Linked DNA regions of Homo sapiens. The protein of the gene in region 1 purifies or fractionates together with the protein of each later gene. This does not show direct contact. Each region holds a gene or a part of one and is shown on either strand. Other genes may lie near its edges.

Region 1 (6,829 bases):
CAACGAGGGCTTAGCGAACAGACCTTTGCTAATCTGTTTATTTCCTTGAACTGGAGTCGGGCTGCGATGGGCTGCGATTCCCAGGACGATACATTTAATTAGAACAAAACAGAAAAAAAAAATGTTGTAAAAGCTCACCAAACTGCTGCACTTGTGTCTCTGAATGTGGGTGGCATTTCTTTTAAAAGGCAAAGTATGGTCTGTGAAGGAGAAAGGGGAAAGGGGAGGTGGGAGTGGGGAGAAGGGGTCGTACGTACAGCCTGGCAAGGGAAGCCCTGGCTGAGACCCCCCGGCTAAGGAAGGGTCCTCAGCGGCTCCCCAGCCAGGGCTGCGACGGAGTAGCCATCTGTCCAGAGCGTTCTCTTCCCCTCTCCACCCCCATTCCCTCCAAGACTCGCTTTCCTGCCGGCTGAAACCCACCGTCCGTGTCCAAACCTACTCTCCAGCCGCCTCTTCTCTCGCCCCACCAGGAAACAGTGGGCGAACCCTGCACCCCAACTCCTTCTGCTCGAGCAGGGGAAGGAAACGGGGCCCCAACCTCGCCCTGAAACGCGCCGGGCTGACCCCATTATCACCCGCCAGCCAGAGAAGGGCGTGGGGGGCCCGCGTTTCGGACTTAATAAAGAGAAGGGGGCGCTTCCTTTAACGCCCTGCCAAAGCACAAGGAAATCTCCTTTTCTCTCCCGGAAGAGACGGTGCCCCATTTTACCCCGACAGAGGGGGGAACCCCAGGAGAAAGCGCGGGACCAACTTCCTCTCCCTACAAGGCAGGGAAACCAAACCTTACCCCCGCAAAACAAGGCTGAGAATCCTCCCTCACGTCACCTACCTACGAAAAGCGAGAGGACCCCTGCCCTTTAGCAAAAACACGGGGAAGAGTCTTCTCTAAAAAAATAGGCTGGGGTTTTCATCAAAAGGGCTGGAGATGCATCTCCCCCCTCCCCAATTCGGCCTTCTAGGGGATAGCTAAAAAACACCCCCCGCCAAAAAATACAAGTGCTATAGAGCACCCACCCAAATGACCCCCAATTACAAGGATGGAGAAGGGACCTGAATGAACCCCCACCTTCTGCCTCCTAAGCTAAAGTACCTATCATCCAAGTAGGACAGGGTGTGCCTCCCCCAGGAGAAAGGATACTGCCGGGGGCTGGGAGACCCCCAACCCCAAACCCCTAAGAGCGGGGCTGTTGTTCGAGATCCCCCCAAAAAGGGTCCGGAGCCCCTCCCCCATCCCCTTCCCCGAAGCCAGGCGACGGGCAAGCGGGCCCGTAGCTGCCAGCTCCGGGCGCAGGGGCAGCCAGGACCCCCGTGGGTCTCCGCAGCACCCCCCACGGCGCCCCCTCCCCAGGACAGGCGGACGGGCGCGGGGGGTCCGAGGGGCGCCTCCTCACCTTCCCCTCAGCATGGCGCCCAAAAAAGACAGAGCGAGAGCGAGGGAGAGCGGGCGAGCGCCGCGAGGGGGGGGAAACGCATGAGGCCGGGAGAGAAAGCAAGCGAGAAAGAGCGAGCGAGCAAGCGATCGAGAGACACCCACCGACCCCGCCCTTCCTCCTCCTCCTCCTCCTCCTCCTCCTCCGCGGCCCGGCCCAACATGGCGGCCGCCCCCCTTCCTCCTCCTCCTCTTCCTCCCCCCGGGGACGCAGCCCCGGCCCAACCGGGGGCCTGACCTGTCGTCAGGGAGCGGGAGGCGGTGGTGGAGGAGGTGCGGGGTGGCCGGGCGGGCGTCGGGGGAACACGGAGGAGGCGAAGGCGTTGATGGCGGCGGCGGCGATGGCGGCGGCGGCGACTCTGATGGCGGCGGCGGGGGGGTCCCGGGCGCGGCCTCCATAGTTCCTTTGGGGGGGAGGGGATGTTAATGCACGAAAAAGGACTGCTTGGGCGTGGCGGGAGGGGCACACTTAAGCTCGGAGGGCTCCTGATGGGAATGGGGTATATATTTTTTCGGTTTCGGAATCACCTCTGCGCTGACCTCCGCGTAGGCCGCACGGCCTAGGCCTCGGAGGGCCGCTCGCCGCCTGCTTTCTCCGCAGCCCACCCTTGCGGTCACTCGCTCACTGGCGCGGGGCCCTCATAGGGGCGAGAGCCCCCCCCCCACGCACCCCCGGGGGGCGGGACACCCGGGAGACACGGACACTGGTGGGTGGTTGGGTGTAATTAGCGCGGGCCGCGCGCGATGGAGCAAGCGAAGGGTAAGGGGAGAAGAGGAGAGCGAGCGAGGGGGGTGGGGGGTTAAAAAGAAAAAAAGGATTTGAGGGAGAGAGGGAACGGGCCGCGGAGACGGGCCGACTGTCTCCCTTCTCTGCCCGCCCTGGGTGCCCCGGCTGCCCGGCCCCCGCCGCAATCAGGAATTGACACAAAATGGCGGCTCGGCCCGAACCAGCCTAGAGGCTGAGGCGGGAGGAAGGGTGAGATGGGAGGGGGAACTGAGAGGCGGAGGCGGAGGCCGTGTCACGTGCAGGAGAGGGGTAGAGACCGCTTGCCCGAAGGCCGGCGGAAAGAGCCGAAGGCAAAGGGCGAGGCCGAGGGGAGGCGGAAATAGCCGAAAGGAGCTGAGCAGGAGCGAGGAGGCGACGGGGGAGAGCCAGAAAGAGCTGAAGGTGGTGATATGGGTGGGGCTAGAGAGAGCATGAGAAACCTAGGGGAGCCATAAATAGCCTAAGCCGATCGGGACCGGGGAAGGAGGAGAAACTGAGACGGTCCGGAAAGAGCCGAAAGCGGTGTCCGGGTGGGTGGCAGGAGGTGGAAACAGCCGAAAGAAAAGCAGCCAGGGTAATGCGATTAAGAGAATGAGCTGAACGGGCGGGGCTGAAGGGGAGAATAAACGACTTTCAGGAATTCGCCGGAGAGCAAGAGGGAAAAACCGAAAATTGCTAGTTTGAAGGAAGGCGGGAAGAGCCAATAGTTTTAGGTGGGAGAATGGGAGGGAAGGAATTCAGGCTACGGAGAGGGAAAAAAAAAATAACCGAAAGCTGGAGGCCAGGTGCCGAGAGTCGGAGGTTTCCGGAGAAGCGATGAAGCCCAGCCAGCCCGGAGGTGACGTCACTCGACAACCCAGTCGATGATGTCATCATTGGATGCGAGAGGGGCGGGGCTTGGTAGTCCCTCAGGGGAGTTTAAGGACCTGGGGTGTAGGACCCATGGAAGGCTCTCAAATAGCAGAGCTAGAAACACTGGCCGGTGTCGTAGACTGTACAAACAAAATCTTTTGACCCTCATAACCGTCCTAACATAAGCTGCTGCTATTCCCATTTGCAGACTGAAGTTCGGTGTTTTAAGTAATCGGTTCACGGTCATAGGATTAGTTCTAAAAAGCACAGCAAGATTTTTTTTTTAAGAGACAGAGTCTTGCTCTGTCGCCCAGACTGCAGTGCTGTGACACGATCATACCTCACTGTAACCTCGAATCCAGGGATCTTCCTTAAATACTTGTTAGCTCTTTCTACAGTGCCAGTCCCTGTGATGGAGCATGGGAACAGTTTCTGTCTTCATGGAACTTAACCGATAATGCCCCAAGGGAGAGAAACAGAGTTAAAGAATAAAGGGGGTGGGTGGAGTGTTAGAGGAGGGTCTTGTAATTGTTCTTTTAGGCTGGTACATGAAAAAGAAGAGATGGTTCCAGGCAGAAGAAATACCTTATTTCAGGCGGGGCGATGTTGCTCACGCCTGTAATCCTAGCACTTTGGGATGCCGGGGCGGGCGGATCGCTTGAGCTCGGGTTGGAGACCAGCCTGACGAACATGGTAAAACCCCTTCTCTACTAAAAATACAAAAATTAGCAGGACATGATGGCTCACACCTGTAGTCCCAGCTGCTCGGGATGTTGAAGAGGGAGAATCGCCCGATCCCGGGAGGTCGCGAGGCTGCAGTGAGCCGAGATTATGCCACTGCACTCCAGCCTGGGCAACAGAGTGAGACTCTTGTCTCAAAAAAAAAAGAAAAGAAATACCTTATTTCAGGCCCTGACAAAGCAAAGACCACTTAGATTCCAGGAAGAGAGAAAAACCGTGTCAACAGTGATAAATCTGGAGACAGAGGCACCATGTGACTTCCTGGTATATTGATCCTACTTTTTTTTTTTTTTTTTTGAGGCAGAGTCTCGCTCTGTCGCCCAGGCTGGAGTGCAGTGGCGCGGATCTCGGCTCACTGCAAGCTCCGCCTCCCGGGTTCACGCCATTCTCCTGCCTCAGCCTCCCAAGTAGCTGGGACTACAGGCGCCCGCCACCACGCCCAGCTGATTTTTTGTATTTTTAGTAGAGACGGCGTTTCACCGCGTTAGCCAGGATGGTCTTGATCTCCTGACCTCGTGATCCGCCCGCCTCGGCCTCTCAAAGTGCTGGGATTACGGGCGTCAGCCACCGCGCCCAGCGGATCCTACTGTTTTTTAAATGTTCCAGCTGGCAGCGGGGCGTGGTGGCACACACCCATAATCCCAACACTTTGGGAGGCCGAGGCTGGCGGATCACTTGAGGTCAGGAGTTTGAGATCAGCCTGGCCAACGTGACGAAACCCCGTCTCTACTAAAAAGACAAAAAATTAGCCAGGCATGGTGTGGCGCGCCTGTAATCCCAGCTACTTGGGAGACTGAGGCAGAAGAATCGCTTGAACCTAGGGGGTGGAGGTTGCAGTGAGCCAAGATGGCACCACTGCACTCCAGCCTGGATGACAGAGCAAGACTCCGTCTCAAAAAAAAAAAAAAAAAAAAAAAAAAATTAGCCAAGCGTGGTGGCCGGCACCTGTAATCACCAGTTACTCGGGAAGCTGAGGGGAGAATCGCTTGAATCCGGGAGGCAGAGGTTGCAGTGAGCTAAGATCATGCACTCCAGCCTGAGTGACAGAAAGACTTTAATTAAATTAAATGTTGCAGCCGGCACAGTGGCTCATGCCTATAATTCTAGCACAGGAGGATTGCTTGAGCCCAGAGGTTCAAGACCAGCCTGGGCAACATCGTGAGACCCCAGTTTCTTCAAAAAGTCAAAACATGGCCGGGCGCAGTGGCTCACGCCTGTAATCCCAGCACTTTGGGAGGCCGAGGCGGGCAGATCACGAGGACAGGAGATCGAGACCATCCTGGCTAACCCAGTGAAACCCCGTCTCTACTAAAAATACAAAAAATGAGCCGGGCATAGTGGCGGGCGCCTGTAGTCCCAGCTACTCGGGAGGCTGAGGCAGGAGAATGGTTTGAACCCGGGAGGTGGAGCTTGCAGATAGCCCCACTGCACTCCAGCCTGGGCAACAGAGCGAGACTCCGTCTCAAAAAAAAAAAAAAAGAAGTCATAACATTAGCCCGGCTTCATGCTATGCACCTGTGGCCCCAGCTACTTGGGAGGCTGAGGCAGGAGAATCACTGGAGCCCAGGAGGTTGAAGGAGGTTGAAGCTACAGTGAGCTATAATCATGCCACTGTACTCCAGTGGAGACTTTGTCTCAAAAAAAATAAATAAATAAAAATAAAAATAAGGCCAGGCACAGTGGCTCACGCCTGTGATCCCAGCACTTTGAGAACTCTAGGCAGGTGGATCACGAGGTCAGGAGCAGCCTGGCCAACGTGGTGAAACCCTGTCTCTACTAAAAATACAAAAAAAATTAGCCGGGTGTGGTGGCAGTTGCTTGTAGTCTCAGCTACTCAGGAGGCTGAGGCAGGAGAATCGCTTGAACCCAGGAGACAGAGGTTGCAGGGAGCCGAGCTCACACCACTACACTAGAGCCTGGGTGACACAGCGAGAAGAAAATTCCTGACAAAATGCTTAAAATAAATCATCAGTGGATGAAACTTGTTTTAAGAAGCTGGTGCTCCCCCCACCATCCCACCTGGTACCCCAGTTGCCAGCCAAGAATTGTGTTACCTTTACCCTGACTATCGTCTTTCTGGATCCAATCTCAGATCTAATGGTTAGATAATTATTCTCTTCTCCTATAAAATGTCCCTATTAGAGTGAATCTTAATTGGCCAACAAGAGACCTTTTTTCCTTGCATGTAAGATTGTAATAAAATGTTCACTCATGCTCATAGCTATGTTGTCCAAAAAGTTTTCTTTAACACACCAAGAACTAATACTTCAGGTTTGTAGGAATGGAAAGGAAGGACACCAAAGTAGCTCACTATGTTCGATTGTGGATGGTGCCATTCCTTCCTTTACACCTTGATTTTTGGACCTCATGTATTCTGGGTTATGGACAAAATCACTGATTGAGAACATAGACCACATCTAAGAGGACAGCCATTGTCTTTTCAAGGTATGGTCCTGAAGGGGCCCCATCTCTGTAGTTTCAATGGGGCCATTCTACAATTCTAGATGGCCATCTGCTTTTAAGTAATGGGGAAAACAAAAATCCCACCAAGCAGGAATTCCCTGTACTTCTTCAGTGTCATGATGGAACATTGTGGAACATTGTCTGCCAAGCCCTTCTGACACTTCATCTGACTTTTTTATTTTTATTTATTTATTTATTTATTTTTATTTTTTTGAGACAGAGCCTCGTACTGTCACACGGGCTGGAGAGCAGTGGCACAATCTCGGCTCACTGCAACCTCTGCCTCCAGGGTTCAAGTGATTCTCCTGCCTCAGCCTCCCAAGTAGCTGGGATTACAGGCGCCCACCACCATGCCCAACTAATTTTTTGTGTTTTTAGTAGAGACGGGGTTTCACCATGTTGGCCCTGCAGTCTCACACTCGTGACCTTGTGATTCGCTCGCCTCGGCCTCCCAAAGTGCTGGGATTACAGGTGTGAGCCACCGTGCCCTGCCTGTTTAGTTAGTTTTTGAGACAGAGTCTCGCTGTGTCTCCCAGGCTGGAGTGCAGTGTCGTAATCTTGGCTCACTGCAACCTCTG
Region 2 (7,024 bases), on another chromosome or scaffold:
GTAATTATAATTACAACGGGAAATAATTTCTTTAAGTACCCAGTGCAGTGTCACTGTCAAATAAACATCAGTGGCTTTGGCCCCAATTCTTAAGGTGGCAAACGCCGCTGCCCCACTCCCCACCCATCCCCAATAGGGCTTGAGCACCTGTAGCCCTGCTGAGCACGTCTGTGCAGCCCCAGCCCTCAGCATCTCTTCCACTCGCTTCCAGCTATATCTTTTCCCTTTCCTTCTTAATTCAGGAGGCAGCTTTGCAACCACAGGGCCCAACGATAGAGACTGTGAGGTGGCATTTTTTTTTTTTTTTTTTTGAGACGGAGTTTTGCTGTTGTTGCCCAGGCCGGAGTGCAATGGCACGATCTCAACTCACCGCAACCTCCGCCTCCTGGGTTCAAGCAATTCTCCTGCCTCAGCCTCCCAAGTAGCTGAGATTATAGGCGCATGCCACCACGCCCGGCTAATTTTGTATTTTTAGTAGAGATGGGGTTTCTCCATGTTGGTCAGGCTGGTCTCAAACTCCCGACCTCCGGTGATCCGCCCGCCTCGGCCTCCCAAAGTGCTGGGATTACAGGTGTGAGCCACCGCGCCCAGCCTTGAGGTGGCATGTTTTCAAAGAACATGGTGCTCAGTTTTGGACACACAGGAACTCAAATACAATCATTTTCCTGCTGCTAAGTAATGCTTGGTGGCTGCTCTGGTTGCAGATATGTGAAGTTAGGTAGCCTTTCCTGTTAACCCATGGTTCCAAGCACTCTCTCTTAACAATCATTCCTACTGTGAATTTTCTACCCGGAAAAGCCAGGGGTGGGCAATAACAATTAAGATCATTTGGTTTCTAAAAGTTCTTCCTCTCTGGGAAAGCAGAACTATACAGTGGGTGGCATCCTGCAGATTCTAGTCTACATTTGGGAAAGGTGTACGCCTCTTGCACTTTCAGAGGAACAAGTCAAAAAGTAATTGCTTAAAAAAAAAAAGTGCTAGCAATTCACAGCCTATTCCTGCCCGCTGAACAGAAATTGTGATGCCTTGATTTACCCCCTAGCAGCTACATATTCTTGAGCAAGTCATAACCCTATTGTGCCTCAGTTTCTGGATCTGCAAGGAGTGTTGCCTGCATAAATGTTTGTTTAGGAACTTAGTAAAATGACATACTCCTCTCTCTGCTCTAAGAAGGCCATGAGCCAGCTGCAGCTCATCTCACTCAGCCTGGGCCTGACCAGAGTCCTTTCCTCTTCCAAGAGAAAGCAAGGAAAAGCAGCAAGCAAGCAGACATACCAGGTCAACAGGAGTGATCTATCATTGGCAACGAGGCCTCAAACAAACTGCAAATGCTCTGGCTTCAGCACCTTATCCCCAAATGCCACAAACCAGACATGGAAGCCATGCAAGAGTGACTATCACACACACACACAGGCACAGACAGAGTACCACCAAGCAAAAAGGGGGCTAATACTGCAGAGATGGCCCCAAAGTGCAGCTTGAGGAACACAGCAAGTCATCCCAAGACCCTCACTTAGCTGCCAAAGAAACAGCAAACACTATCAGCTTTGCTTCAGTCTTCTGAAATGAAAATATTAATAAGGAAGACTCACTAATACTTGTGGCAAACACTATTAGCAGGGATGCAGGGTGTCTCCTGGGCTGCAGGACTCCATCTGCTTCAGCTGAACTCTTGGAAACTACAGATGAGAGATATATGCATACGCACACACATATATGCGTATCTGTATGCACACAGATGTATTTAAATGAAGGTGCATACACTGTGCTAAAATACAAACAACAGAAATCAAAGGTCATATATAAAAACGCTAAATATGACATATAACACAGGCCTAGAACCAGCTCTTGGTTGGGAGCTGGGGAAAGGGGTGGTATCATCTGAAGACTATGTACACAATTTGTGGTGGGCAGGGAAGGCATCAGTGTAAACAACTCAGACTCACTTCACAATACTGGCCCACAGGTAAGTGTGATGTATCTCATGTACAAAAATAGACTCCCACCTTGCTTTTGTACAAACCAAGCTTGGTAGGCACCCAGGAGGACCGTGGGTTTGTCTTGATGACAGGGCACTGCACCAGGCTGCTGCTAAACCTTCCAGCCCTAGGAACTCACCTGCTACCCTCCCGCTACCCTCCCCTTTCCCTCCCTTTCAGGCCCTTGGGTCTTTTTCCCACCCAACACCTACAGCCCGAGGCCTGCCCAACCACCTAGCCTCACACGACTAACTGCAGAAACTAACTGCATGGCTTCCTGCAAGCAAGGTCCTTCTGTATCTGTCCCTTTCTCTGACCCCAAGATATATGAAAATGTTTCTGTAAATGTTTGGCACCTAAGAAACATGATGGTTGTGGATAATGCCACAAGTACACAGGGAGACCCAGTAACAAGACATGCAGGGTGAGGGCAAGCGGCTGAGCTGCCCAAGCATTTCAAAACCAGGACTTTGGCTTCCCATGCAGTTGGAGGGTAGAAGGGATGTGCGGAACTGATGACTTCACCGGCTCCTCAGCAGCATGTACATTCAAATTGAAGATGCTTGAGAGCCCCACTATACCAAATCGTGAGTCTGGTCACTCCTCCAGCAGAGCTTGGTGCAGTGACAGTTAGAAAAGCTGAGTTCCAATTGAGTCTGTTGCACCAAGAGTCCTTTTGAAGACGCTCATCAAAGTAATTATTTTCTTTTGAGCAGATGTACAGCACATCCATGGGAAGGCCATGTAAAAGGATGTTCTCCAGCCCAGTCAAATGATCCAATCCCACTATTATCTCAGTTCCCTCTGAGTTTCTTCCTGCTGGCCGCCCTCACTATACAGAAATAGCCAAGCAGCAACAGGGTCAGTCATCAATGGTGGGCAACCAAAAGGCCTAGAAGGAGAACATAAATCAACTTTAAAAAGCCAAGCATCTCCTCACTGCCAACGGTTCTTCACATCCCACCCCACAGCAAAAATGTGCCCAACCCCAGTGGCTCTGGTAGCCCTCTCTCCTAACCAACCAACCCCGATGCTCTAAGGAGACAGAAACACTCTTTCCTCTATGTGAAAGTAAAATGGTTCTGTTTTTCTCCAATAATCACTGTCCACCTTCCACCAAAGCAGACCCCCCGCCCCCTTTTTTTTAAAGGAAGGGAAAAAAAGGAGTGCTGCCTGGGAGGTGGGTGAATAAGTAACCTGTCCTCATTGCTAATCCACCAGGTTACCTCCAACAGGCCCCCACCTTCCTGGGCTGTAAAAAGTAAGGAACTGGATGGTTTTGCTGTATTTTTTCTAACATTTTTTTCTTGGTTAAAAAAAAAAAGCAAGGTGGCAATGTGCTCCGGGTAGGCTAGTAATGAAATGTCTCATCCCCGAATACCCAGGCAGGTTTAGGAGATCACAAGGGAAAACTGGAGCTGAGACTCACTGATCCTTTGTTCTGTTAGTATTATCTAGGAAGAGATAAGGGCCTGGAGTTAATTCTAAGTGGTGAGTTATGACCAACTGTAGAAATTTCTGGGAATTTGGCGTAAACCAACAGGAATGGAAAACTGAAACCACAAAAGGCCGGTTCAGAGTATTTTAAGGAGCAAAAAAATTGCCAAGCATAGCCCAGGTAGTTTGGACCTAAAATTAGGGTCCAGAGCAAAAACTGGCCTATGATCTCCTTGGAACTCAAAGATGATTCCTGATCACCTCTAGGAAGAATAAAAATGAAAGGCAAGACCAGCCCAGCCAGAGATCAAATAATAGGAGATGAAATAGGGAAACCACCAGTTGAGAAACATGTACTTGGATGCTTGTAATGTACCTATGTAGAACACAGCTTGCTGTGCTTGTTGAGGCACCCACCACCCCAACTGGGAAGGGTCCCTGAGTAGCAGATACCTCTTACTGTTCACATACCATGTTGGAACACGCACTGGCAAAAGTCATGAACTTGGGGTTGAATTGCAAACAGGTAATCGGGCCTGTGTGTTTACCATCCAACACAGCTACTTTTATACCGCTCTCTCCATTCCAGACATGGATCTTGCCATCCTCTGAACCTAAAGAGGATATTCACGGAAAATGTAACAGCTCAAGGCGCAATACAAAGACAACTGGAAATGAGACATGGATTGAGATCTGAGGATACGCCAAGCTTTAGGACCCATCCCTCAGGCAAAATTGAGAGGGAGGAGAGGCAGTGAAGGAAGGACACTTTGGAAATTTATCTTGACCCTAGCTATTTGTTCACAGGCATGTCACTTCCGTTCTAACTTCAGTTTTCTCATCTAAAAAAGGGGCCGAATACCATTACCCTACCAACAGGCAGCCACTAAGATGACTGAATGTAGGGTTACACCAGGACATTAGCATTACTAATAAGGTAGTGCTTGTGGAGTTTAACTCAAATTTTGGTCCAGTCAGGGCAGTTAAAAGACACTATGTCCTTGGCATAATGTGCTATACAGAAATCTAAGAACATCTATCAAATAGATAATAATGTCTCAGTTAATAATTTAAACAAAGAAATGCATAGTACCAGAGAAATAACCCCCACAGGGGATAAAAGGAAACTCACCAATCATAATAAACTGAGAGTCTGGAGTAAATGAAGCCTCCAGTGTGACAGCTTTGCTGTTGGCATAACCCTAAAACAAAACAGAGCAGTTCTTTTGTTCTTACAGAGCCATTAATAAAAACAGCTGCCTACAAACACTGACTCAGCACATGCATCACCTTCCTTTCCATGAAACCCTTTCCTTGTCATGTACTACACCACCAAGCTTCCAAATGTGGTTGCCATCGTTGACAATCCACTCCCACCCTCAACTCTGTATTCAAGGCATACTCAAGGGGGCAAGAAAACTTTATTGTTAGGAAATTATTTTATATCTAAATACCAAACTTGGGTCACTTGGTGAGAAATGAACATCTACGAAATCCAAGAGAGGTAAGTTCATGAGCAGGAAGAAAATACAAGTGCATGCCTTCATGAGTAAGTCAAGAGTAACTGTTGGTCTCCACCAACCAGCTAACATAATTCTTAGCATAGGAAGTATGAGCATGGAAACAGCCATGCTTGAAGGCTGTCAGCTCACCCCAAATGTGTGCATCACCACTCCTTTGAATGCATCAATCAGACGAATGAAGCTGCCGTTGGTGGAAATGAGGATGAGCTTGCCATCATTGCTGAATTTAAGTCCTGTCCACTCACAAGTTCGATCATACTGCATCTTAAAGGTAGCAAATGGCCCCTGCAAAAGATAAAAAACAGTAGCCCCAGGCATATTAATAATTTCTTCTGCTAGAGCCAATTCCCATCCTATTCCTTTAGATTACTTTTTGACTAAGGAAAGCAGAGAATGAGCTACTTCTCTGCCACTCTCTAATATCTACCACATTTTTCCTTTTGTAGAAAAGGCTCTTACAGGGCCGGGCGCGGTGGCTCACGCCTGTAATCCCAGCACTTTGGGAGGCCGAGGTGGGTGGATCACCAGAGGTGAGGAGTTTGAGACCAGCCTGACCAACATGGTGAAACCCATCTCTACTAAATACAAAAAATTAGCCAGGCGTGGTGGCGGACACGTGTAATCCCAGCTACTTGGGAGGCTGAGGCAGGAGAATCACTTGAACCTGGGAGGCAGAGGTTGCAGTGAGCTGAGATTACACCACTGCACTCCAGCCTGGGCAATAAGAGCAAAACTCTGTCTCAAAAACAAAACAAAACAAAAAACAGCTCAAAGATCTCAAAGATTCAAAGATTTACCTTATCAAAAGAACGAAGGTCATAAAGCTTGACCATTTCAGAGTTGACACCTGCAGCGAAAATTAACCCTTCTGGATCAAAAGAACAAACTGGCTTCCCCTGCAGATGCATGAGGCCCTAAGAGAAAAGAAATAAGAAATACACTAAAACACACATGCCACAACCATACGTGGAATAACCAAAGACTGCTGGTACAATGGGGAAAAAAAAATGAATCCAGGACCTTACCACTATATAATTTACTTTTCCCAATTAAAACTAAGAAAGGCATACAAACAAATATCAGCCTACCTACAGAACACACACAAAAAAAACATAAAACTAAAATGAAGCTTTTAAAAAACAGGTCTCCAGACAACAATTTCTGATCAACTCTAACTGCACAATATTACAGACACAGAATTCAAATAAAAATAAATCCCTTGAAGCTAAAAGCTCTAGGAACACTTTTAAAAACATTAAGCCAGCTGGGCGCAGTGGCTCACGCCTATAATCCCAGAACTTTGGGAGGCCAAGGTAGGAGGATCACCTGAGGTCAGGAGACTAGCCTGACCAACATGGAGAAACCCCGTCTCTACTAAAAATACAAAATTAGCCAGACATGGTGGTGCATGACTGTAATCCCAGCTACTTGGGAGGCTGAGGCAGAAGAATCGCTTGAACCCTGGAGGTGGAGGTTGCGGTGAGCTGAGATTGCACCATTGCACTCCAGCCTGGGCAACAAGAGCGAAACCCTGTCTCAAAACAAAAACAAAAACAAAACAAAACAACAAAAAACCCACAACAATTAAGCCACAGAGTACAATGCAATCTGCACTAGATTAGGGTATGTGCTTAGCAGCTACCAACTAAAAAAACAGATTTTCTCCAAAGTTTAAAAAGACCCTGTGATCCCAGAATGGAACCACTGTTTTCTCCCTTCTTTGAGAGGTAGAGTTCATTACAGTGCCTACCAAAGAAAATGCTCAAAAAGTATAACTGTGAGGTACCATTACCTGGCAGTTAGGAGACCGGAGATCCCAGAGTCGAATGGTCTTATCAAGAGACCCAGAAATGAAAGTGTCATCCACAGGTGACATGGACAAGGCCACCACCCTGCAATACATCGAGATAAATAGGAGTTGATGCGAAATATTAGCAAAAATTGGATGTGAATTCTAAACCACTCTGCCTATCTATACATATATATACCTGTTCTCCCAAAATTGCCATTTTAAGAAACACAATAAAACACACATACCACAACCATATCTGGAACAAACAAAGGCAACTAGTATAAAAAAAAAAA

The links.
Region 2: the proteins of ZC3H4 (region 1) and WDR82 purify together in Homo sapiens (affinity purification with western blotting; 4 studies listed by BioGRID and IntAct, with this or other methods). This does not show direct contact.

What each region holds. Positions count from the first base shown.
Region 1 is NC_000019.10:47,110,757-47,117,585, forward strand, and holds the start of ZC3H4 (zinc finger CCCH domain-containing protein 4), read right to left. Parts: upstream 3,021-6,829; 5' UTR 2,964-3,020; exon of another isoform or gene 1,958-2,963; intron 1,834-1,957; 5' UTR 1,829-1,833; coding exon 1,668-1,828; intron 1,503-1,667; exon of another isoform or gene 1,406-1,502; coding exon of another isoform or gene 1,392-1,405; intron 201-1,391; exon of another isoform or gene 177-200; coding exon of another isoform or gene 139-176; intron 119-138; exon of another isoform or gene 1-118. UniProt on the Homo sapiens protein: RNA-binding protein that suppresses transcription of long non-coding RNAs (lncRNAs). LncRNAs are defined as transcripts more than 200 nucleotides that are not translated into protein.
Region 2 is NC_000003.12:52,254,649-52,261,672, forward strand, and holds part of WDR82 (WD repeat-containing protein 82), read right to left. Parts: intron 6,832-7,024; coding exon 6,732-6,831; intron 5,854-6,731; coding exon 5,737-5,853; intron 5,225-5,736; coding exon 5,069-5,224; intron 4,619-5,068; coding exon 4,549-4,618; intron 4,031-4,548; coding exon 3,888-4,030; intron 2,872-3,887; coding exon 2,842-2,871; 3' UTR 1-2,841. UniProt on the Homo sapiens protein: Regulatory component of the SET1/COMPASS complex implicated in the tethering of this complex to transcriptional start sites of active genes.